Linked DNA regions of Homo sapiens. The protein of the gene in region 1 purifies or fractionates together with the protein of each later gene. This does not show direct contact. Each region holds a gene or a part of one and is shown on either strand. Other genes may lie near its edges. The genes, in order: PRKD2 and TRIM40.

Region 1 (16,516 bases):
TGGAGGATGATGGCTTTGGGGCGCAGGCTCCTCCATGCTGGGAGGAGGTGCCGCAGGTGCCCGAGCCCTCGTGGCTCATGTCCTGATGCGTCCCTCCTTTCCCTTCTCAGTGGTCCACGTCTACTGTACTGAGTGCTTTACATGGCATTTCACTGGGTCCACAGCCTTAAAAAGAGGGAGCAGGTGTCCACATGCTCCAGATGAGACGGAGGGGACCGCTGCTCCTGTCTCGAGGAGGCTTCCACCACCTACCAGCCAGGCGTCCTCGGTAATCCTAGCACCTCTGCCACAGGGCACTAATGCCCAGTTCCTGGGTTGTAAAGGGCTGTGCCCCAGTCCCCCAGCAGGCCCCAGTGAACATACGAGAAAGGATGGAGGCCGCTGTCTGGACACTCAGGACATGGCAGCGTTTTGCTGGGACAGTCATCTGCCCTTCAGGAAAAAGGGTGCAGGTGGGCAGGAGGCCCTTAGATGACGCCAAGGGGAGCCTTCGTGGGCTCCACGTGGTGTGCTCCCTGCCCATCCCTCTGGGCTCAATGCAGTTCCCCAGGTGGTGGTTTGGGTTTTCACTCCAGCCTCAGACTTCCTTCCTCAGCCCCAGCCCCCGGATGTGGTGACAGAATCGATACTGTACCGACCTCAGCTACCCCCAACGGCCGTACACCAGGAAGAGGGGCTCTTCTGGCAGCCCCCATCCTCAGCCAGCCCTGCCATTTCCAGTCCTGCCAGCATCCCAGCCAGACAGGTGGCCCTTCTCTTAGAGCTCAAACCTAGGCCTTGACTTGTCAATCAAAGGGGTGGGTGGGGCAGCTTCCCTCAAGCAACTTCACTCTGGGATCTTGGGCAAGACGTTTTGCTTCTCTGAGGCTTCAGCTTATTCTGTGTAAACTAAATGGTAGCCACTATTTGATTATTAGCTGGGGAGGAGAGATCAAGCCTGACCCCTGTAGCGGCTGGAGTTTTACAGCAGGGCCCACCCAGCACCCAGTAGGTCCTCACAGATACTTGCTGGGTGACTGAATGGGTGTGCCCACCCATCAAAGCCTGAGTGCTGGAGGTGGCCACCCCTTTCCGCGTATTATCAGAGACAACCACCTCTTACTGAACTGCTGCGTTTCCAGGCACCAGTATACCATGGCATCGGCTCCCACCATCCCATGTGGGGTCAGTCCTATTACAGTCCCAACAGATGGAGGGACTGAGGCTCACAGAGAAGCCACTCACCCAAAGTCACATGGAGAGAAAGACACGCACACGTACTCCACATCCCCAGGAGACACACTCTGCATCTATGAAGTGGTATGGGTGTGCTGTCCTCCCTCGGGGCAGCCCCACACTATCCTAAGGCGGGGTTGGGGTGGGCGGGGGGATGGACCCTCCCCACCCATCCAGTTAGCGCCATGCACCTTGCCCACCATCGCTGGAGACAGACCTAAGGCGAGCCCCTTCCTACCCATCTGGAGGCCTCGGTCTTTCCATGTGTTAAATGGGCTGGGGCCGGGGGACGCTCTGCAGCACCCCCTTCCCTGGGCTGGGACGCGGCGGGGAGGGCAGGGGTGACGCTCGGAGAACAGAGAGGCCGAACCCAGAGAGCGGGCCGGGACCTGATACCGATTTCCCACCCGTCCCCTGCCATGGGCGCCGGACGCCTGCCGGAGAGGGCTCCCCTCCTTAAAGGGCCAGTGGCCTCCAAGCCCGACGCCTGCGACCGGCGGTGGGTGATAGTGTTTCCCCTCCCTGTCCAGCCGAGGGAAAAGTTAACTTTCCAGGCTTGGCTGTGTTCAGGGAAGGAACTGGTCTCGCCTGCCTGCCCTCCATCCCTCACACCATCCCTTGTCCCGGACCCTGGAGGCGGAGGTCCAGCCCCCAACTCGGAGGCCCCGGGCCCACCCTCCCCTTCCGCCCCCGGCCCCTCGGCAGGCTCCGCCCCTCTCTGACGTCGCCGAGGCCCGCGCCGATTGGTCGACTGCACTGTCGCTCCGGACACTTCCTCCTGGGCCGCCGCCGCCGCCGCCGACTTAAACTTTGGAGGGGGAAAAAGAGCTACTGGCGCCTGGCGACCCTCCCTGCCCCCCACCCAACCCCGCTCCGGCAACGCCCCCTTCCTCACGGCTCCCGACCGAACTTTTCTCCAACTTCTGCGACTCGTGAGATTCCCTTCTACCCACTCCGGCCCTCGGGACCCCTCTGCCCATCCCCTGGCCGGTCGGGTCCCTGCGAACCCCTTTATCTCTGGAATCCACTCGGTCCCCGACTCAGAGACTCCTGCCCTCCACCCCCAAGGTGAATTCCCCCGGGCCGCCTTCTGAGTGGGATCCTCTTCTTGGAGCACTGGATCCTGGGATTCCCTCTGCCCCCTTCTCAATCCCTCCTCTAGGGAAGGGGCCTTTGAATCGCGGGCTCTCCTGATCCCTGTGACCCCGACCTACTAGATTTCCTCTCAGGCTTCTTGGAATCTCAATCGCTGGGACCTCCAACCCACTACTTTTCTCCTTTCTGATCTTCTGGGAGCCCTGGATTCCGGGCCTCTGACCCACTATAGTGCCTTTCTCTCCTTCCCAGGACCCCGCCATCCTCAGGTCCCCTCCGCCTGCCAGATCTTTTCTCGGATCCCCGCTCTCCCACCACCTGCTCACGAGATCCCGCGGATCTAGAACCCAGGGTCCCCCGGGGCCCCCCGGCCGGGTCCCGGGTGGGCTCCAGGCGGCCGGTCCCCGGCCTCCCCCCATGGCCACCGCCCCCTCTTATCCCGCCGGGCTCCCTGGCTCTCCCGGGCCGGGGTCTCCTCCGCCCCCCGGCGGCCTAGAGCTGCAGTCGCCGCCACCGCTACTGCCCCAGATCCCGGCCCCGGGTTCCGGGGTCTCCTTTCACATCCAGATCGGGCTGACCCGCGAGTTCGTGCTGTTGCCCGCCGCCTCCGAGCTGGCTCATGTGAAGCAGCTGGCCTGTTCCATCGTGGACCAGAAGGTGAGGGCGCAGGCTCCCTGGATCCAGCTCGGGGAGAGGTTGAAGGAGGGGGCGCTGGCAGAGGGGTCTGGGGCCTGGTGTGCGGAAGAGGGAGGAAGGAGACCTGAGCTTTGGGTGATGGAGGGATAGGGGGCATTGCCCCCCTCCATTGCCCCTCTCCCCACCATCCCTTTGAGAGAGGACTGGGCAGGGGTGGGGTGCCCCAGAGGCCTCCCCAAATTTCATGTCCCTGCATGTCGTTGTTTTCTGCAGCAAACAGGGAGGAAGGGAGGGGCCAGCCAGGTGTAGAGAGGGGAGGAAGGGGCAGCAGATGTCGGCGGACCTCCACGTCCAGGCCCATCCCGGGCCTCCCATTTGGTGGAAACAGGAGAAATTGAACCCGGGCTGGCCATGGTGATCCGGTGACATGTGTGGGTGCAGGTGCTTGAGTTAGCTGCCAGGGGCAAGTGAGGTCTCGGAGCCCAATTCTGCCCTCCCCTAAGCCTGAGATATGTGTGGAGGGGCAGGCACTCCTACAGACCCTGGGGACTCTATTCCCTTTCCTAGTCACAGTGCTGTTAGCCTACTCTTAATTTTGGACACCAGGGTCCCCAGGGTGGGCAGCTGGGTGTTATGGCAAGAGGAAACCAGGTGGAACTCCACGTCTAAACCGTGAAATGTTAAAAGAATAGTGGGCTTCTGTGTTGGAGTACTGGACTGTAGAAATGTTAGAATATTAGAATCATAACTTGTTGGAATATGCATCCTAGGCAATTAAATTGCCCCCATGTTCGTGTTCAAATATTAGAATTCTAGGTTTGTGAAATAGTAAAACATTAAAATGCTGGAATATTAGATTCCTAGATTGTTGAATCCTAGAAAGTTAAAATGTTAGAATTTTAGAATGCTGGATGGATGAGGTCCTTGAATGCTAAAGAATTCAAAGAGCACAGTCCTAGCTTGTCAGACTCCTAGAATATTAAAATATTAGATTACCGCTTATTTAGGTTATTGAAATCCTAAAATGTATAGTGATACCAGGTAGGAATCTAGAATGTATAATTCTATAATGTGAGCATGTTGGAGTCCCAAAATATCCAAATTCCAGAATCTTTTCAGACTCCTGGAAATGAATCCTTTGGGCATCAGAGAAACGTGGGGAACTGGGCCAGCTCCCCCATTCTACAGACAAGGAAACTGAAGCTTAGAGAAAAACTTCCCAAGGGGTCAGGGCCAAGGCAGTCCTGGTCTTCTGTGGACTCTCTCTTAGCAGTGAGAACTGATAGGGTTTTGCCCACCAAATGCCTCAATCCCGCAGGCCCAGCTCACCACCCCAACTCAGCCCACTTCATGGGAAGCTGGTGGCAGTGGGGGTACGGGGGCAGATTGTCCCTTGGGTGAACTTCTTTGTCCAGTGCTCAAGTCCCCAGCCTGCCCCGCTCAGGCTTCACCCCAGTTTTATTTTTCTGCCAGGTCCAGGTGTGTTAGGGCCGCTTACCTTCCTTCCCGAGGCCCCACCGGGGCAGTTTCACTTTCTGTTCTACTAGGTTTCATTTCCTGCCCCCAGGCCCCCAAAGCTGAGGACCCAGACACCTGGGTCCTTTGAGCATTGGGTGGCAGGCGCCCTCCTTATCTCCAGCGCCCTCGAGTCCAAGTCCCCCGGCCCCCCCCCCCACTTTCCCAGGAGCCCCGAAAAGTCCTCCTTCCAGCTCGCCCCACCCCAGTGCTGGGCCTGGAGCCAGGTAACTGGGACAACAATAGACAGATCCAGGAAGGAAGCTGGGGGGCGGGTGTGTGAGCCTGGGGAGGAGGCACAGGGGAGGGAGTGTTCATTCAGCATCCCCTCCCACCTCCGCCAGGTTCCGGAAAATTCGAGGTGTCCACGCTCCCGGAGCCACTCTCCCTCCCACCCCAGCTCCCCCTTCCAGCCACCAAACCCACGCCGGCGCCCCCTCCCCGTACAATTGGGGCGCTGGCATCCTGCCCGGCTCGCGCTGGGGTTGGGAGGGGGCAGGCAGGAAGCGAGGGCCTGCGGGGTCTCTGCGTTTCCGGGGGAAACAGCCGGCCCTGCCCTGGGAGGGTCACAGTCCGCCCGCTGCTGAAGGCGGCTCTGAGCTTTTCCGTCGCCACATCCCTCTCCCGCCCCTCAGTTCCCTGAGTGTGGCTTCTACGGCCTTTACGACAAGATCCTGCTTTTCAAACATGACCCCACGTCGGCCAACCTCCTGCAGCTGGTGCGCTCGTCCGGAGACATCCAGGAGGGCGACCTGGTGGAGGTGGTGCTGTCGGGTGAGAGGTGGTGGCCGGCCTGGGGGCGGGGCCTCGGGTGGGGGCGGGGCATCTGGGGGAGGAGAGGGTAGGGGGAGTTAGAAGTCAGGAGAGGCCGGGTGTAGTGGCTCACGCCTGTGATCCCAGCACTTTGGGAGGCTGAGCTGGAGCTGGGGGGATCGCTTGAGCCCAGGAGTTCGAGATCAGCCTGGGCAACATAGTGAGATTCCATCTCTACCCCTTTCTCTCCCTCTGAAAAAAAAAAATAAGGAGAGTTGGGGGCTTCTGGAAGATGGTTACAGAGTGGGGTCATGAAGGCGCTCTTTAGGGACTGGTCTAAACTTTCATTTATGGATTAGGATGCTAGTGACACGCTTTGTACAGTTTGAAAATTCATTGAGCTGTGCACTTGTGATGTGCGGCCTTTCCTGAACATATGTTATACTTATTTATTTATAAAACTAGTCAAGTGCAGTAGTTAGAAGGGGGAAAAGAGGAGAAGAAGGAGTTGGATCTGTAACTGACTGTGTTATGCTTAAATATAAAGGTAAAAAATGGGCCAGCTGCAGTGGCTCACACCTGTAATCCCAGCAGTTTGGGAGGCTGAGGTGGGAGGATCGCTGGAGCCCAGGAGTTTGAGACCAGCCTGGGCAACATAAGGAGACCCCATCTCTTAAAAAAAAAAAAAAAAAAAAAAGTTAACCGGGCGAGGTGGCACACGTCTGTAGTCTCAGCTACTTGGGAGGCTGAGGTGGGAGGATTTCTTGAGCTTAGGAGTTTGAGGCTGCAGTGAGCCACGATCATGTCACTGCACTCCAGCCTGGGCAACAGAGAGAGACCCTATCTCTAAAAAAGAAAAAAAGTAGAAAAAGAAAAAAAAAAGTTATGATGTCCATGGCTCCTGCCACGAAAATGCTAAATTAAATCAGAATCTCTGCAAAGTGAGATGGAATCTGCACATCAGTATTTTTAAAAGCCCCCAGGTGATTTTCTAAGACACAGCCAGAAGCCAGTTCATCCACTCACTATTCCAGTAGTATAGATGGGCATGCTCTCAGCACCTTAGAGCAGTCTATGGCCCTTGGTCCCTCTTGAGGGTGGGGGCAGCTGCCTTTTTCATGGCTGCCTTCCCTGCTGCTCCGGCATACTGCAGTGCCCAGTGAAACCGGCTCAATGAATGAATGACAGAAGTCTGGATTTACACCTTTAGTGACCTTGTTCAGGCTTTAAGTACTCTTTCATATCATAAGCTGGCCTCACTTGAATTTTTATCTTCATTGTTGTCTCTCCCCTAAACCTGAGTTTTGTTTTGTTTTTGTCATTTTTATTATTTTTTGTTTTTTTAGACGGAGTCTCGCTCTGTCACCCAGGCTGGAGTGCAGTGGCGCAAACTCAGCTTGCTGCAACCTCTGCCTCCTGGGTTCAAGCGATTCTCCTGCCTCAGCCTCCCGAGTAGCTGGGATTACAGGCGCCTGCTACCACACGTGGCTAATTTTTGTATTTTTAGTAGAGACGGGATTTCACCTTGTTGGCCAGGCTGGTCTCGAACTGCTGATCTTAAGTGATCTGCCCACCTCAGCCTCCCAAAGTGCTGCGATTACAGGTGTGAGCCACCGCTCCCGGCCCTGTTATTTTGTTTTGAGGCAGGGTCTTGTTCTGTCACCCAGGCTGGAATGCAGTGGCATGACCACCACTCACTGCAGCCTCTACCTCCCAGACTGAAGCAATCATCCCGCCTCAGCCTCCTGAGGTGGCTGGACTATAGGCATTACAGGCATGCACCACCACACTGGGCTTTTTTTTTTTTTCTTTTTTTTAGACAGAATCTTACTCTGTCACCCAGGCTGGAGTGCCGTGGCATGATCTTGGCTCACGGCAACCTCTGCCTCCCGGGTTCAAGCAATTCTCCTGCCTCAGCCTCCTGAGTAGCTGGGATTACAGGCACGCGGCACCAGGCCTGGCTAATTTTTGTATTTTTAGTAGAGACGGGGTTTCATCATGTTGGCCAGGCTGGTTTCGAACTTCTGACCTCAAGTGATCCGCCCACCTGGGCCTCCCAAAGTGCTGGGATTACAGATGTGAGCCACCGGGCACCGCCTATCCATGTTCTTTTTTGTTGTTGGTGGTGGTATTTTTAATTAAAAATTTTTTAATTTGGTAAAATATACATAACATAAAAATTACTATTTTAGGCCGGGTGCAGTGGCTCACGCCTGTAATCCCAACACTTTGAGAGACCGAGGCGGGCAGATCACCTGAGGTCGGGAGTTTGAGACCATCCTGGCCAACATGGTGAAACTCCGTCTCTACTAAAAATACAAAAATTAGTCGGGTGTGGTGGCGCATGCCTGTAATCCCAGCTACTCTGGAGGCTGAGGCAGGAGAACTGCTTGAACCCGGGAGGCGGACTTGTGGTGAGCCGAGATCTCACTACTGTACTCCAGCCTGGGTGACAGAGTGAAACTCTCTAACAAACACAAACAAAAAAGCCCACAACATTTTAAGCACTTTTAAGCGTACAGTTCAGTAATTTAAAGTTCACGCACACTGTTGTGCAGCCGGTCTCCAGAACTGTTGTCATCTTGCGAAACTGAAGCTCCTTGCCCGTTAAACAACTCCCCAATTCCCGCTCTGTCCCTGCCCAGGGCGTAGGGATATATGTGTTTTGTTCAGGGGTGGAGCTGGGATTTGAACCCAGGCAGAATGTAGTATGAGAGCAAATGAAGGAAGGAAGGAAAGATCACACCTTGCGGCTGGGAGCACTGTGAGAAATCAGGGAACGTGGGGTCTGGAAAAGCTTTGGCCTACCCCGCCTCAAGCATCCACCCCTATTTTCCGCCTACAGCCTCGGCCACCTTCGAGGACTTCCAGATCCGCCCGCACGCCCTCACGGTGCACTCCTATCGGGCGCCTGCCTTCTGTGATCACTGCGGGGAGATGCTCTTCGGCCTAGTGCGCCAGGGCCTCAAGTGCGATGGTGAGAGCTAAAGGGTTGGGGGCGGGGCCTGGGGCGGGGCTCTGCACCGGGGGCGGAGCGTAATGGTCCTGGCACGGGGACAGCGTGGGGAGGAGGAGCGGGTCTCAGAGCTGGGGGCGCAGCCTAGGAAGTAATAATGGGAAGAAGGATGGGCCCAGAAGCAGAGCTTGGGGAAGGAGTGGTGGGGCTGGGCCGGGGCTCAGGTCTAGGGGCGGAGCCTAGGAGGTGGAGCTGGGAGGGACAAGTAGGGGCTTAAGAACAGAGCCTAGGGGAGCAGAAGGGTGGCGGGGGAAGAGGGTGGGGCCTCTATCAGTTAGGGATCAAGCAGAGAAACATCCAGGAGGAGATATATATTGAGATATTTATATGCAAGGAATCAGCTTACAGAATTGTGTGGGCTGGCTAGGCAACTCAAATCTGGCTGGGCACAGTGGGGGAGGCCAGTAATCCCAGCACTTTGGGAGGCAAAGGTAGGTGGATCACTTGAGGCCAGGAGTTCAAGACCAGCCTGGGCAACATAGCAAGACTCTGCCTGTACAAAAAATAATTAGCCAAGCATGGTGACAGACACTTGTGGTCCCAGCCACTTGGGAGGCTGAGGCGGGAGGATCACTTGAGCCTGGGAGCTCGACACTGTAGTGAGCCCTGATTGCACCACTGCACACCAGCCTGGGTGACAGAGCGAGACCCTGGCTCAAAAACAGGAAAAAGGCCGGACACGGTGGCTCATGCCTGTAATCCCAGCACTTTGGGAGGCCGAGGCGGGTGGATCACGAGGTCAGGAGATTGAGACCCTCCTGGCTAACATGGTGAAACCCCGTCTCTACTAAAAATACAAAAAATTAGCCGGACGTGGTGGCACACGCCTGTAGTCCCAGCTACTTGGGAGGCTGAGGCAGGAGAATTGCTTGGACCTGAGAGGAGGAGGTTGCAGTGAGCCGAGATTGTGCCACTGCACTCCAGCCTGGTGATAGAGTGAGACTCCTTCTGAAAACAGAAACAAAAACAAAACAATAAAAAGAAAAAGAAAAAAAAATCCATCCTATCAGGAAGGGCAAGTGGGAACTCAGGCACAAGCTGAAGCTGATGTCCACAGGTGGAATTTCTTCATCCGAAAAGTCTCTGATCTGCTTTTTAAAACATTCAGCTGATTGAATGAGACCCACCTAGAACAAGCAGGATCACCTCTCCCACTTACAGTCAGCTGATTATGGATTTTCATCACATCCAGAAAATACCTCCACTGGGCCGGGTGCGGTGGCTCACGCCTGTAATCCCAGCACTCTGGGAGGCCGAGGCAGGTGAATCACCTGAGGTCAGGAGTTCGAGACCAGCCTGTCCAACATGGTGAAACCCCGTCTCTACTAAAAATACAAAAAAGCCGGCGTGTTGGTGGACGCCTGTAATTCCAGCTACTCGGGAGGCTCAGTCAGGAGAATCTCTTGAACCCGGGAGGCAGAGCTTGCAGTGAGCTGAGATTGCACCATTACACTCCAGCCTGGGCAACAAGAGCAAAACTCTGTCTCAAAAAAATGAAAAGAAAAGAAAATACCTCCATGGGGCCTTCTCTTCCCAGTTCTTCCTGGAGTCGGGGAAAAGCTGGGTTGAGAAGGTGAAAAGAAAAAACAAACCTTGACTGGGCACAGTGGTTCACACCTGTAACCCCAGCACTTTGGAGGCTGAGGCAGGCGGATCATGAGGTCAAGAGATTGAGACCACCCTGGCCAACATGGTGAAACCCCATCTCTCCTAAAAATACAAAAATTAGCGGGCGTGGTGGCATGTGCCTATAGTCCCAGCTACTTGGGAGGCTGAGGTAGGAGAATCACTTGAACCCAGGAGACAGAGGTTGCAGTGAGCCGAGATCGTGCCACTGCACTCCAGCCTGGCAACAGAGCGAGACTCCGTCTCAAAAAAAAAAAAAAAAAAAAAAACCACAAACAAACCAACCTTCATGGCAACATCTAGATTAGTGTCTGAATAACTGTGGATCTCGCCTAGCCAAGCTGACACATTAACATGACTATCAGGGTCCATCTCTTGTCAACCTGGCACCTGTCTTAGTTTGTCAGGGCTGCCTTAACAAAATACCACCCTGCGTGGCTTAAATGACAGACATTTACTTCTCAAAATCCCTGGAATTGTGAGAGGCTGGAAAGACAAAGATCCAGATTCTGGCAGGGTTCTGTTTCTGGTGTAGCCTGCTTTCCTGCCTTGCAGAGGGCCATCATTTCACTGTGCGCTCACATGGGACACGGAGAGAGAGATCCCTGGTATCTCTTCCCTTTATAAGGAAGGCCAGGCATGGTGGCTCATGCCTATAATCCCAGCACTTTGGGAGGATGGTGGATCGCTTGAGTCCAGGAGTTCGAGACCAGCATGGGCAACATGGTGAAACCCCGTCTCTAAAAAATACAACAAATTGGCCAGGCATGGTGGTGCATACCTCTAGTCCTAGCTACTCAAGAGGCTGAGGTGGGAGGATCACCTGGGCCTGGGAGGTTGAGGCTGCGGTGAGCCGTGATCATGCCACTGCACTCCAGCCTAGGTGACAGAACACGATTGTCTCAGAAAAAAAAAAAAAAAAAAAAAAAAAAAGGTCACCAGTCCCATTGGATTACAGCCACACTCTTTCGGCCTCAATTAACCTTAATTACCTCCATAAAGGCACCGTCTCCAGATATAGTTGCATTGGAGGTTAGGGTTTCAACATAAGAATTTTGGGGGAGACACAGACATTTAGTCCATAACAGCACCCATACATATCTCCTTAAATCATAGTTTAAAAATATACAGGTTTTCTTTTTTGGAGACAGCGTCTCAGTCTGTCACCCAGGCTGGAGTGCAGTGGCGCGATCTCAGCTCACCACAACCTCCACTTCCCAGGCTCAAGCGATTCTCCTGCCTCAGCCTACCGAGTAGCTGGGATTACAGGCACACACCATTACTGCCCGGCTAATTTTTGTATTTCTAGTAGAGACGGGGTTTCACCACGTTGGCCAGGCTGGTCTTGAACTCCTGACCTCAAATGATCCACCCGCCTTGCCCTCCCACAGTGCTGGGATTACAGGCATGAGCCACCGCGCCTGTCCAAAACATACAGTTCTTTAAGCCAAGATGTCTCAAGGTTCAGCCCAAGTGTCAAGATCTATATAGGTCCTCTGTCCCTGTTATTCATGCTTCTGAGTGAGAATGTTGAAATCGGGGCTCTGCCTACAGATGAAGGCCATGTACCTGCATTGGCTATGAGGACAGATGACAGGTGAGGACCATCCATTCTGTGATGAGACCCTGTGGCTCCATTGTTTTGTGTGTGTGAGACAGAGTCTTGCTCCGTCACCCAGGATGGAGTGCAGTGGCGTGGTCTTGGCTCACTGCAACCTCTACCTCCTGGGTTCAAGCAATTCTCCTGCTTCAGCCTCCCAAATAGCTGGGATTACAGGTGCGCACCACCACTCCTGGCTAATTTTTGTATTTTTAGTAGACGGGGTTTCACCATGTTGGCCAGGCTGGTTTCAAGTAATCCACCCTCCTCAGCCTCCCCAAGTGCTGGGATTACAGACATGAGCCACTGCGCTGGGCCCCATGCGCCTCCATTTTTGTATGGTGTGCCCTGCAATTAGAGCCATATTCTTGGATGTTCCATTGGGTATTAGGTCTGAGACAGCATCTCTAGCTCCGTGGGTGCCACGCTTGTACAGAAATCCTGATTCTGGGCCAGGCACGGTGGCTCACACCTGTAATCCCAGCACTTTGGGAGGCCAAGGCGGGCGGATCATGAGGTCAGGAGTTAGAGACCAGCCTGGCCAACATGGTGAAACCCTGTCTCTACTAAAACTAGAAAAATTAGCTGGGTGTGGTGGCGGGTACCTATAATCCCAGCTACTCGGGAGGCTGAGGCAGGAGAATCATTTGAACCTGAGGGGGTGGAGGTTGCAGTGAGCCGAGATCATACCATTGCACTCCAGCCTGGGTGACAGGGTGAGACTCCGTCTCAAAAAAAAAAAAAAAAAAGAAATCCAGTTTCTCCAATATCCTGTGTTCCAGATCATCATGCAGTCCAAAGTATACTTGTATTATTTAAGGACTCTAGGCCTGCAGATACTGATTCAGTGCATTAAAAGCTCTTATAAATATTGCCATCGTCCACACACCATATCCAACTCTTGAGGTCTCAGCATATGCAGTCTTTGTCATGATACAGCCCTGGTGTCATCAAGTCCTAATGGGTTATCAGCACAGACTTCACTGGTGCAGCATCACAGATGATGGTCCCAGTTCCTATGGTGGCAAGAGAACCCCAAATGACTACATTCCGACAGGAGTTTAACTCTATCCTGAGACTCATTCTGAGAGTTATAGATAAGATTCTGAAATTCTGGAAGGCACATGAGTGATTCAAGGCCAACACTGGGAAATGGTTCCTGTGTGCAAAGACCATTTGCCCTGCTGAAGCTCTTCTTGCAGGGCCAACACCGTTCTCCAAGCTTGCCTCCGTGATTACAGCATGCAGCCAAGACAGTGCCTACAATGAGGAGGTGTGGAACTGGAAAGCCTGGAGCAGGCGGGTACCAGAAGGGCTCCCAAAGGCTGGAGGAACATTCTTCACTCCAGAATAGAAAGCGATCCTGGAATCGTTTGGAATCACTGGAGATGTATTAGAGCACACATACAGAACGTCCAGTGGGAAACAGGGAGTTGAGCTGATTTCTCCATGGATGAGGATTTTAAAAGATAAAATAGGCAGGGCACAGTGGCTCATGCCTGTAATCCCAACACTTTGGGAGGCTGAGGTGGGAGGATCACTTGAGCCCAGGAGTTCAAGACCAGCCTGGGCAATGTAGCGAGACCCCATCTCTACAAAAAAATAAAAATAAAAAAATTATCTGGGCATGGTAGTGTATGTCTGTGGTTCTGGCTACTCAGGAGGCTGAGGCAGGAGGATTACTTGAGCCCAGGAGTTGAAGGCTGCAGTGAGCTATGATTGTGCCATTGTGCTTCAGCCGGGGGTACAGGGAGATCCTGTCTCTACAAAATAAAATAAGACAATAAGAAGTCATACTTCTGCCTAGTATGGTACAATGGACCTGAGTACAACTGAGAACTCTTTTTTTTTTTTTGAAACTGAGTCTCGCTGTATTGCCCAGGCTGGAGTGCAGTGGCGTGATCTCAGCTCACTACAACCTCTGCCTCCTGGGTTCAAGTGATTCTCCTGCCTCAGCCTCCGGAGTAGCTGGGATTACAGGCGTGTGCCACTACACCCGGCTAAGTTTTGTATTTTTAGTAGAGATGGGGTTTTGCCATGTTGGCCAGTGTGGTCTCAAACTCCTGACCTCAAGTGATCCGCCGGCCTTGGCCTCCCAAAGTGCTGGGATTACAGGCGTGAGCCACCATGCGTGGCCCACACTACTAAGATTTAATCACACTACTTAGGGATTGCCTGGATTCCAGGTCTACAGAAAAGAGAAAGTGGGGTACAGGGGGTGAGCAGACCTGGAGGGATAGTGACCTTAGGGGTGGGGGTGAGGAGAGGCATTTTCTTTTGGAAAGTTGGGGTTGGGGAAAGAGGGGGAACCAAAGGGGCCTCAGAAAAAGGAAGGTCAGGGTTAGAAGGGGGAACAGGTGTCTCTAGGGAGATGGACAGGAGTTTTGGGGAGGACTAGAAGGAGGTGCTTACCATAGAGGACTGGGGCTGGGTCAGAGCTTTGGCGGGGACTTTTGAGGCATCCATTGTTGCAGTGGGAAAAGGTGGGGTGTGAGGCGCGTTCAGGGCCTGGGGGGCAGATGGGGTGATGTCGGGGCTACAAGCTGGAACTAGGGGTGGAGCTTTGGAGGGAACCTTTGAGGTATCCCTTGTTGGAGTGGGAAAATTTTGGGTGTGAGGCGTGTTCAGGGTCTGGGGGACAGATGGGGTGATGGCAGGGCTACAAGCTGAAACTGGGGACAGAGCTTTGGGGGGAGCCTTTGAGGTGTCCCTTGTTGGAGTGAGAAAAGGGGTGTGGGTGTGTTCAGGGTCTGGGGGACAGATGGGGTGATGGTGGGGCTACAAGCTGGAACTTGGGGCAGAACTCTAAGGAGGGGTGGGCCTGAAGGGGCTGATACACTTACGGATAGTAGTGCCTTTTGGAGGAGATCGTGCTGGCGGGGGGTGATGGGACAGGACCAGGTGAGAGATTGGGTGGAAAGGGCACAACTTCTCAAGAAGAGACCTAGGAGGGGCAGACGCCATGTCTCTTACTCTCTGGCGCCCCCTGCAGGCTGCGGGCTGAACTACCACAAGCGCTGTGCCTTCAGCATCCCCAACAACTGTAGTGGGGCCCGCAAACGGCGCCTGTCATCCACGTCTCTGGCCAGTGGCCACTCGGTGCGCCTCGGCACCTCCGAGTCCCTGCCCTGCACGGCTGAAGAGCTGGTGAGGAGATGGGGGATGGGACGGGTTGGTGGCTAGGGGGGTGACTTGGCCCAGGCATGGGGCCAACGCACTGATGTGTCCCCTCCATTCTTGCCAACGACAGAGCCGTAGCACCACCGAACTCCTGCCTCGCCGTCCCCCGTCATCCTCTTCCTCCTCTTCTGCCTCATCGTATACGGGCCGCCCCATTGAGCTGGACAAGATGCTGCTCTCCAAGGTCAAGGTGCCGCACACCTTCCTCATCCACAGCTATACACGGCCCACCGTTTGCCAGGCTTGCAAGAAACTCCTCAAGGGCCTCTTCCGGCAGGGCCTGCAATGCAAAGGTTAGCTGGGCCTGTCGGGGAGGACAGACAGGGTCAGAACCTCCTTCCCGCCCCAACCTGGTCTTGTGGCAGGACACAAGGATCTGAGCCTTGGGACCCCAGGGCCTCAGAAGGGGAGGGCCCTGAATCCTAGTGTTCTGGGACCTTTGGAATTCTGGAATCTTAGAACCTCAGTTGTGTGTGTGTGTGTGTGTGTGTGTGTGTGTGTGTTGTTGTTGTTTTTTGGAGACAGGGTGTCACTCTATCACCCAGGCTGGAGTGCAGTGGCGCAATCACGGCTCACTGCAGCTTCAACCTCCTGGGTTCAAGTGATCCTCCTGCCTCAGCCTCCCAAGTAGCTAGGACTACAGGTGGTGCCACCACACCCAGCTAATTTTCTTTTCTTTTTTTTTTTTTTGAGACGGAGTCTCACTCTGTCGCCCAGGCTGGAGTGCAGTGGTGTGATCTCGGCTCACTGCAAACTCTGCCTCCTGGGATCAGGACATTCTCCTGCCTCAGCCTCCTGAGTAGCTGGGACTACAGGCGCCCGCCACCATGCCTGGCTAATTTTTTTGTATTTTTAGTAGAGACGGGGTTTCACCATGTTAGCTAGGATGGTCTCGATCTCCTGACCTTGTGATCCACCTGCCTCGACCTCCCAAAATGCCGGGATTACAGGCGTGAGCCACCGCGCCTGGCCACACCCAGCTAATTTTTAAATCATTTGTAGAGAGAAGGTATCACTATATTGTTCAGGCTGGTCTTGAACTCCTGGGCTCAAGCAATCCTCCTACCTCGGCCTCCCAAAGTGCTGGGATTACAGGTGTGAGCCACCGCGCCCAGCTGAACCTCAGTCTTTAGAACCTTGGAATCCTAGATTCATAACGTGCTTAGCATGGAATTCTAAAACTGTAGAACCTGAGAATTCTAGAATCAGAACCATAGCATTCAAGAATTCCGAATGATAGAATTCAGCTAAAATAACAACAGAACTTTAGATTACACATCTTAGATCTCCCAAGTTATAGACTCTCAGAGCATGAGAATTTTGGAACCATGGGATTTGAGGGTAATAGAAACATAGGCACATCAAATTTGAGAGTCTTAGACGTCTAGAATCATATAAGCTTGAAACCATCGTAACCTAGAATCCTGGAAATTCTAGACTCCCAGAACTTTGAACAATCAAATTCTAGAATCCAGCCAGGTGTGGTGGCTCATGCATGTAATCTCAGCACTTTGGGAGGCCAAGGTAGGTGGATCACTTGAGCCTAGGAGTTTAAGACCAGCCTGGGCAACATGGTGAAACCCTGTCTCTACAAAAAAAATTAAAAATTAGCCAGGCATGGCAGCATGCATCTGTGGTTCCAGCTACTTGGGACTCTGAGGAGGGAGGATTGCTTGAGCCCAGGAGGTTGAGGCTGCAGTGAGCCATGATTGTGCCACTGCATTCCAGCCTGGGTGACAGAGCAAGAACTTGTCTCAAAAAAAGAAAAAAAAAAATTCTAGAACCTCAGAAGCCTAGATCCACATAAACTTAGAAACATCCAATTCAAGAATTTACTGGAACAATCAAATTCTAGAATCTTAGAAGCCTAGAGCTAAAGA
Region 2 (9,797 bases), on another chromosome or scaffold:
TGGAGGCCTATGGCGGCCGGGCACGGTGGCTCACACCTGTAATCCCAGCACTTTGGGAGGCCAAGGCGGGCGGATCACGAGGTCAGGAGATCGAGACCATCCTGGCTAACATGGTGAAACCCCATCTCTACTAAAATATAGAAAAAATTAGCTGGGCGTGGTGGCAAGTGCCTGTAGTCCCAGTACTCGGGAGGCTGAGGCAGGAGAATGGCGTGAACCCGGGAGGCGGAGCTTGCAGTGAGCGGAGTTCGTGCCACTGCACTCCAGCCTGGGCGACAGAGCAAGGCTCCATCTCAAAAAAAAAATAAAATAAAATAAAAAGAAACAGAGGCCTATGGCTTGTGTAGTAATTTTCAGTTGACGAGACACTGGTCTCCTTTGATCCCTACTGTGATCCAGGCAGAGCAGGACTGGTTCTCATTTAACATGTAAGTCACATAAAGATCAGAGGGCTTAACTTGCGTAGGTCACTCAACCAGCAAACTTTGACGCCAAGGCCAACACCCGGGTTTTCAGCCTCCACGACCATCTGCCCACATCAGGCTGTTCCAGGGACAGACAGATGTCCAGAATAGTTAAGTAAGGGCTCCTGAGAACACTCCAGGGAGTCCTTCCCAGGAACCCGAAAAACCCACCTGCAGAGCCTGCAGTTTCTTCTCCTGCTGAGCCTTGAGCCGCTGAAGTTCTGCAATGTCCTTTCTGAGCTTCCTGCTCCGGCGATTGAGTCGTTCCTAAAGAGACAGACACACCTGCTTGTCAGACTGGGAGTGAGGGGGGCACCCACTGGGAGGAGTCAATGGAACACGGTAGGGGGCCTGATCCCAGAATGCAACTAATGTAAAATTCTGCCTAAAAAGAAATGCTTTTAGAGCATCATGGTTGGAGTAAGGGACTTGAGAGTTTATTTATTGGATAATGATGGGGGGAAATAGTAATGGGTAATTTTTTTACAGTCTTAGAAGTACAGAAAAAATAATAGATAGCAACAGAACCATTTCTACTTGACTTCAGGGTGCTTTCTCTCAACATACAAAAGTTATATGACAGTCTTCTAGCACTTCTTACTATTTTACAGTAACACATGGAGCCAGTCTGGAGGGAATTGCCTTAAAGAGGAAATGGCAACCCTCTGCTACCTCTGCTGCCTGGTCCTCACTGGGATGAGTGACAAGATAGAGCCCTTTACTAGGTGCAAACTCATAGCCCAGGTAGGCAGTGCCTTCTCTCTCAATCTTAAATCAGCATCTGGATGTGTCGCTGTGTCCTTGAAGCTATGGAGTTAAAGAATGATTTGAGTTTCTAAAAAAATTTTGCTTTCAGGTTTTTGATGACCTATAAGAGAAGCAAAAATAACAACAAATGCTTTAAATGGCTGCCCATGGTTCGGGGGGCAGTTGGAGGGTGAATGATAAAATAGAAAACAAAACGAGAAGAGATTTGTGAACTAAAGATCAGGATGTGCTATTAGCTGAAAAGTGTGTGTTTCACTAAATCTTTCCCACTTCAGATTTTTTTTTTTTAATCTTTTTTGAGGAGATTTTGGAGATGTACAGGTAGAAGTCAGGGGATGGTGAAGACAACTGAAAGTTCTTTCCAGCCTGAGAATTTCCTGGTGAAATCAAGGTCAAAGGACTGTGTGTGTGAGGGGTCAGCAAGGGCATTTGGTGAACAGAAAGCTGCAGTAAGCAGAGAAGACAGTGATGTCACCACAAAGTTACTAAAAACGTGTCACGTCACTGGGTGTTTCCTGCAGGCATTTCCCAGCAGAGACGAAATAAAAAAGTCATAGGAGTGGGAAGTAATAAATGGGCATCATGGATGTCGCTCATGAGTCTCGCTGAAGAAGGTGGCAGGCTGGTGTGGAACTGTTTGTGCGAGCACAAGAGTTCATGTCCTGAAAAGCACAAACAGCCTTCACCGCTTGCATCTACTCACTTGCTGCCCTCACAGTCAAGTTGTTTGGTGTTGCTGTCTTCACCTCCTCACTGTCGTCATTCCTCAGCCAGCCGCCTTGTTTCTCATCACTCCTTTAAAGCCTCTCTCTCCAAAGTCACCTGAGATCTCCAGCCATGAAATCCGCAGGTGCCTTTCTGTACCTCCTCTCCACCCCATCCTTCCTAGACCTGTGCCTTCTGCCACTGCTTCTTTGCCTCTTCATTTTTTTCTGTAAAAAGGAGCCTTGAAGTTGGCTCCTCAACCCTTTTCTATCTCAGACTATGTCCTTAGCTTTCCTTTCTGGAGCCTTCAGATCTTAGAATTCCAAAACCAAATCTTTTTTCCTAGCAATCCATCTCATGCTTCCAAGTGAGAGCTAAGTGCTGCCTACTGCCCTGTTGGCAGCTCAAAATCAATATGGTAGAATCAAACATGCTGCCCAGTTCCCCAAGCTCTTCTGCAGTCCACTCCTCTTGACCTTCATGTTTCTGACATTGGGACTGCCATTCTGCCTGCCATTCAGCTTGAAATCTGTCACATTTCACCTTTGTTGATGTTAGTCCTCCCTTCAAAATGGCTTCTCAGCAACAAAGATAAGCCCAAACTCCTTCACCCAGCATCCAAGGTGCCCCAGGACCCAGCCCCAACTGACATTGTCCGGGATTCTCTCTCTGCTCACTGAACTCTCTTCACCAGCACACAACATTGCTCTCTGCTTCCCAAACACACCCGTGCAGCCACACCTCCTCATGGCCTTTTACTTCTCTCTGTCAGGAGTGCTTTATTTTTCTGCCTGTCAAAGTCAGGCCTATTAAGGTCCAGTTCAAAAAGCCACAGTCCTATCATCTGGCAGTTTAAAATTTAATAAAGCCAACTACAGACACTGTGTAAATGAAAAAAAGAAGGCAAAGATAACAGTAATAAAGATAAAGGCATAGAATGACTGAAGATAATACTGTCATATTGTTTACAATATTCAAAATGAGTAAGGTAAAGTCCTCTGTTTCTAAAAAGTACTTTTTCACCAATTTTTGCATAAAGGTATTTAATGGGTGCATATAATATAAATAAGACACTCATTAGAATTGAAAAGCTAAATTCTATACACTTTCACCTACCAAAATATTCCTCAGAGAAAAAAAGACAAGTTGAAATCTAGAAAATAGTCGAAGACCTGTCTTGTCTAAATGAATATTTTAAAATTCTGTCATTCAGGTTAAATCATATTAAATTTTTAAAATCTGACAAAAAAGGGCATTAAATTTGTTCTTAAACAACTTGCTAACACAATGTACAAAAGAAAAGTGGTTAACAGACAAAAAGTACCTATCCCTGACACTGAAAAAAAAAAAAAAAAAGAAAAATTAACAGCTTTCAAAATGCATGCTCCTTACAGAACTGTGTCCAAAAATATGAATTAAAAACAACATCACTCACACAATTATGATCTAGAAAATGTCAGAAAATTTTTAAAAATGTATGGTAAATACATGAGCTCAGCAAAGAATCTCATTTGAATCTACAAGTAAAAATTGTCAAAAAAAATAGTGTTGTAAAATACATAGCTACCCTCAATAGAGTCAGGGCACATGAGGTTTAAGTAAAGACAATTTAATATCTGATTCAGATACATAGTGGAAAGCCGTTAGTGATGTATCTTGGTACTGGTTGAGAAGACTAACTAAACCCCCAAAAGTCATGATTCTTAGTAATCAACAAATTTAATGCAATAACCATTAAAATCTTATGGAATGATCTATGAAATTTAGAAACATTGTAAAAAAGCACTCATCTTAAAAGACAGCAAAAATATCAGGTAATAAAATTATTAAATGGCAAAAATGCTGCTAGATTTAAAAATAAACCATAAAGTAACATGTTGTCAAAACTATATAACAGAAAGAATAATCAATGGACTAGAGTAAAAAAAAAACAGCCCATCATGAGAACTTAATTGATGTCAAGCGAGAAACAACACGTAAATGTGGAAAGGACTCACTGTTATATAAATATTTTGGGAACAACTGGATACCAGAATAAAGGAAAATTAACGTGGAGTCATCCTTCACACAACATACTATATGAAATTCCAAGTAAGCCAGGAATTAATAAACCTTTAAAAATAAAACAGAGCAGCACACTCATATTAAACAAATTTCTGTGTATTTAAGACATGGAGATTATATTATAAAAAAGAATAGAGCCAATTTAAATGCAAATTTCTAAAAAGTTGCCCAAAAATATAATTAAGAAGAAATAACAGAATAAAAAAATGTAGGTTAAACAAACACAACTAATGGAGCTCATTATCCAAAAGATAAACTATTTTGATGCAATCATGTAGAATTTATGCCCTGATTCTAGGGGAAAATGCAGACAGCGAGTCTTCATGGATAAAAGCCTCACCACTACTAGCATTCATAATCAAGCAAAGTAAAACAACGTACATCACTGTCACACACTTACTAAACCAGCAAAATACATTAAAGTGATTGACACTGACATTGACTGGTCAGTGAGGAAACAGGTATACAAATAAGAATTTGTAGATTTTATAAATTTTTCGGTCTTTTTAGAGTACAGTCAGGGATTATATGATTCTTTTAAAAGAACAAAATTTACAATACTTAACTACAAAGTTTAATTCAAATAAATAGAGATATGGTGAAAAAATCAGTAAAAAAAAACCCTCCTTAATTTCAAAATTACGCTGTCAATATCCATGAGTACACATAAGGTCCACCATTATAATCACTTCTTCAGAAATATACTCAACTCCCTTACCCTCCCTCTCTGTGTTACTTTTCAGACAACTCCTTATCCATGGTAAAATGTACCATCACCTTCTTGTTTGCTGTCTGTCCTCAGGCAGCCTCCTGAAACATGTTAAACATTTCAGACCTCAAATTGGTGCTACATACTGTCTGCCAACCCTACATAGTTTCTCTTGTAAGCGCTCTCCCACACTGCATCACACCATCTTGTTTCTTTTCAAACCTTTCACATCCATCCTGATCCCACCCATACTGCTGATGTTCCTTCCTCAAATATTATGAGAAAATAAAAACCAGAACAAAACCTGGATTTCCAAAACTGCAAAACTATGTAGGCTTGCAGACACCTTCTCTTGTTCCCTGTTATTACTATGGAAGAAGTGTGCCTCCTCCCAACTCAGCTCTCATGCCTCTGCCACCATCTTACTGAAGTGTTAGCATTGTTCAATGCAATCTATTATAATCTCTTAAAATACCCTTCTCTCTTAGCAGCTGGGGCACCATTCCCCTTGTTTTTCTCCTGCCTTTCTGGCAACTCATCCTGTCTCCTTTGCTGGGTCCTCCTCTGCCTACATCTAAATGACGGCCTTTCCCAGAACCTTACCCCAAAACTTCTTTTTCTGTCTAGCCTCTTTTGAGGCAATTACATCAGTTTCCTTGGTTTCTTGGTTGTTTGTTTCTTTGTTTGAGACAGGGTCTTGCTCTGTCTTCCTGGCTGCAGTGCAGTGGCACAATCACAGCTCACTCCAGCCTCACTCTCTTGGGCTCAAGCAATCCTCCCACCTCAACCTTCCAAGTAGCTGGGACCACAGGCGTGAGCCACTGCACCCAGCCCCAAATTGTCACGTTCTTTTTTTTAAATCCTGTTAATTTCACTTTGTTGTTGCTGTTGTTGTTCTAGAGATAGTATCTCACTGTGTTGCCTAAGCTGGTCTTGAACTCCTGGGCTCAAGCGATCCTCCCACTTTGGCCTCCCAAAGTGCTGGGACTACAGGTGTGAGCCACCGTGCCCGCTTTTCTTGGATTTAAATATTGTCTTTGCCTGGATGGATCTTTGTTCTAGGTTCTAGGAATAAGACTCTGGAGATCTAAATTTGTGATCCAGCTGCGTATGTAAGATCCTATTTTGATGTGTCTCAACTTGGACTCAACTTGTCTTAAATGAAACTCTTGGTGTTGCATTCAAACCTGTTCTACCAAGTTATTATCTTTCACATCATCTATTCAGTTTCTCAAACCAGAAACTCATGAAGTCATCTTTGACCTTCCTCCTTCCTTCAACCCACTTTTTAAAATATATATACTTTAAGTTCTGGGGCACATGGACAGAACATGCAGGTTTGTTACATAGGTATACACGTGCCATGGTGGTTTGCTGCACCCATCAAACCGTCATCCACGTTAGGTATTTCTCCTAATGCTATCCCTCCCCTACCCCCCATCCCCTCACAGGCCCTGGTGTGTGATATTCCCCTCCCTGTGTCCACGTGTTCTCATTGTTCAACTCTCACTTACGAGTGAGAACATGTGGTGTTTGGTTTTCTGATCTTGTGTTAGTTTGCTGAGAATGATGGTTTCCATCTTCATCCACGTCCCTGTAAAGGACGTGAACTCATCTGTTTTTATGGCTGCATAGTATTCCATGGTGTATATGTGCCATATTTTCTTTATCCAGTCTATCGTTGATGGGCATTTGGGTTGGTTCCAAGTCTTTGCTATTGTGAACCATGCCACAATAAACATACGTGTGCATGTGTCTTTATAGTAGAATGATTTATAATCCTTTGGGTATATACCCAGTAATGGGATTGCTGGGTCAAATGGTATTTCTGGTTTTAGATCCTTGAGGAATCACCACACTGTCTTCCACAATGGTTGAACTAATTTACACTCCCACCAACAGTGTAAAAGCGTTCCTATTTCTCCACTTCGTCTCCAGAATCTGTTGTTTACTGACTTTTTAATGATTGCCATTCTAACTGGCAGAGATGGTATCTCATTGTGGTTTTGATTTGCATTTCTCTAAAGACCAGTGATGATGAGCATTTTTTCATATGTCTGTTGGTTGCATAAATGTCTTCTTTTGAGAAGCGTCTGTTCATATCCTTTGCCCACTTTTTGATGGGGTTGTTTTTTTCTTACAAAGAACCCACTTCTAATCTCTCAGTAAGTCCTGTCGATTCAAACTCTAATGATAAATTCTTCAAATATAACAAGACTTCTCAGGTGTGGGCATCTGTATGCACTCCCTACCCCCTGTCTTTGCAGGTTGATTTCTCTTCTGCCAGCCCTCAGCTTCAAGGTCACTTCCTCTATGAGGCCCTCACTGACCAAATGGACATGGGCCACCCATTACTGTTCATCCCAGACCCTTGTTTATTTTCTTCCTAACTAATAAAAAGTTACAGTTCTTTTGGGAGGCCAGCGCAGATGGATCATGAGGTCAGGAGTTCAAGACCAGCCTGGCCAAGATGGTGAAACCCTGTTTCTACTAAAAATACAAAAATTAGCTAGGCCTGGTGGTGGGTGCCTGTAATCCCAGCTACTCGGGAGGCTGAGGCAAAGAATTGCTTGAACCTGGGAGACGGAGGTTGCAGTGAGCCGAGATCATGCCACTGCTCTCCAGCTTGGGTGACAGAATGAGACTCCATCTCAAAAAAAAAAAAAAAAAAAAAAGAAAAAAAAGTTACAGTTCTTTGATTACTTATTTGTGTCTCCCTTACTACACTGCAAACTCCTGGCAGAAGGAATGGCATCTGTCTTCATTGATTCCTAGCACATGCTGCAGTTTCTCACACACAGCAGGAACTTACTAAGTTTTTACTTAATGAACAAGTGTCATCGTTATTTATTTGTTTTAGCTTTCTTGTCATTATTTAAAGACAGATTTGAAACAAGAATTATGAATCATCTTTGTACTTTCTACAATGCCTAGCATGACATCTAACACAAAGGACAGACCTGAAAAAATCATTTAGTGAGGAAATAAATTTCTCCATCTTATGCTGCTTCATCGGCAGGTGAGGAATCCCTCCCCACTCTCCTGTGGACATTGCACCTGGAGGGAATGATGTTAGAACCAAATAGAACTTTGCCTCTGGCTTTTTCAATTATTTCTCTACCTTTCTGTAGTCACTTTTAATCTGGACTCCCCACTTTCTCATTCTGTATCATAACATGTTCTCCAAAAGTCAAGTATCTCAAAGCTACCTCAGCTTTGGAAGTTCAGCCTTCACTATTGGATAGAAGGATGCCATGTGAAAATATTGTCAATTGTCCAGTCAAATACTAACTGGATTAGGGTCAGGGGAAAGGTTGATAAAAATAATTCCAAAGCTAATTGGCAAAATAAAGATATACAAATATCTGCACGAATTCTGAAAAATAAGAGTATTGTGAGGATTCTATCAAAATACCTGACATTAAAATATATGGTAAGGATAAAATCTCTAAAATACCTTGGCTTATAGGCAAGCATAGACAGAATAGAACAGCACAAAGAATCAAGGCAGTATGCAAGAAAATATGCATATATGGTATATTATGACATTGGCATTCAAATCAATGGGGAAACTATATGAATCATTCAACAAATGGTGATAGGACAAATTGATTATAACTTGGAAAAACTAAAGTTAGATTTCTACCTTATGCTCTCACCAAAATATATCTTGGATATTCTAGGTCCTCCAATATATATGTTGAAGGATATTCATTAGAACGTTCTGTGTAATCTTAAAACAAAACAATAGCTTGGAAATGACCCAATGTCTGCCAATTTATGGTACATTCATAGAATTTAATACCACACAGTTCTTGAAAATAATTCAGAAGATCTATACATGCTGATGAGAAAATGTTCAAGCCACACTTTTAGATAACAAAAATGAGTTACAGAAAAAAATATAGAGAGAATCCTTTGAGGGTGTGTGTGTGTGTGTGTGTGTGTAAGAGTGCATTCATAAGCACACACATTTTTTGGAAGGATGTACAAAAATCAAACAATGGTTACCTCTGAGGACTATGAATGGAGGGAGAAAGGAAGACAAATTTTTAGTCTTGACTTTATACCTTTCAGTGCTTTCTGAATTTATTACCTACAGCATGTAACTTTTGTGATAGAAAATTTAACAGAATAAGATAAAATAATTGCCATAGCAAAGAAAGGAAAAGGAAAGATAAGACAAATGCAGAAGGAAGAAAAAGAGAGAAAAAATTATGTAGTAACTTTCAGGTTTTAATATATTTGCAGGATAATTACTAGTGTATATAAAACCTGATTACATTTCTAGCCAAGTTTCTAGTACTATCAACCAGGAGTTCACACAGTTTTAGTCCTGAAAGGGTTTTGCATTAGTTAGTCCAATTACTCTATTCTACAGATGAGCAGACTGGGACTCTAACATCACACTGACAATATCCTCTTTTAGACAGACTCACATTAATGCATGGAAACATCAGCCTCAAAATATACACAGAAAAGCAAGACAAGGGTCCAAAACAGGATGAAGCAGAAGAAACAAAGAGAGATGTCCATTGTTGAGCTACTCTGAGGTGCCAGGCATGATGAACATGTAGGATGCAGCACCTCAGCGAGGTGGAGGCAGGGCCTGGCTGCGGTGACCCAGGCTTACCTTGTAGTGGCTGAGGGCATTTTCAATGGTCAGTTCATGATGAGACATGTGTTCAGGGGACACCAGGCATTCCACACATAGAAGAAGTCTGCTCTCCTCACAGAACCTGCACACCCTCTTCTGGTGGTTGGGGCAGATATAGCCTGTCCCTAGCACCTCCTCAGAACAGGGCTTCCGGCAGAGGGGGCAGCAGAAGACCCCAGAGGCTGAGGCCTTCTCCACATGCTGTGTCAGGCACACTCGACAGAAGAGATGTCCGCAGTTGGTGCTCACGGCCTCCTTCAGGCTCTCCTGGCAGATGGGGCAGACACCCTCCTCCTGGTTGTCCTTCTGCAAAGGGATCATGGCCTCGTTCCTACCCTGTCAGCCTCCTGTTTGCAGGGCCTCCTTCTTCACTGGTCTTCGGAAGGCCTGTTGCCCTCAACAGTCCCAGATAAGAAGGCCCAGTCGGAAG

Evidence for each region.
Region 2: the proteins of PRKD2 (region 1) and TRIM40 purify together in Homo sapiens (affinity purification with mass spectrometry; 2 studies listed by BioGRID). This does not show direct contact.

What each region holds. Positions count from the first base shown.
Region 1 is NC_000019.10:46,702,582-46,719,097, reverse strand, and holds the start of PRKD2 (serine/threonine-protein kinase D2), read left to right. Parts: upstream 1-2,287; 5' UTR 2,288-2,727; coding exon 2,728-2,967; intron 2,968-3,047; exon of another isoform or gene 3,048-4,688; intron 4,689-4,777; exon of another isoform or gene 4,778-5,096; coding exon 5,097-5,235; intron 5,236-8,059; coding exon 8,060-8,191; intron 8,192-9,743; exon of another isoform or gene 9,744-9,816; intron 9,817-14,448; coding exon 14,449-14,603; intron 14,604-14,706; coding exon 14,707-14,929; intron 14,930-16,516. Other genes in the region: uncharacterized protein LOC107987269, read left to right, coding at 35-452, 596-745, 1,122-1,299, 1,921-2,287.
Region 2 is NC_000006.12:30,136,928-30,146,724, reverse strand, and holds part of TRIM40 (E3 ubiquitin ligase TRIM40), read right to left. Parts: 5' UTR 9,689-9,797; coding exon 9,344-9,688; intron 732-9,343; coding exon 636-731; intron 1-635. UniProt on the Homo sapiens protein: E3 ubiquitin-protein ligase that plays a role in the limitation of the innate immune response. Mediates inhibition of the RLR signaling pathway by ubiquitinating RIGI and IFIH1 receptors, leading to their proteasomal degradation.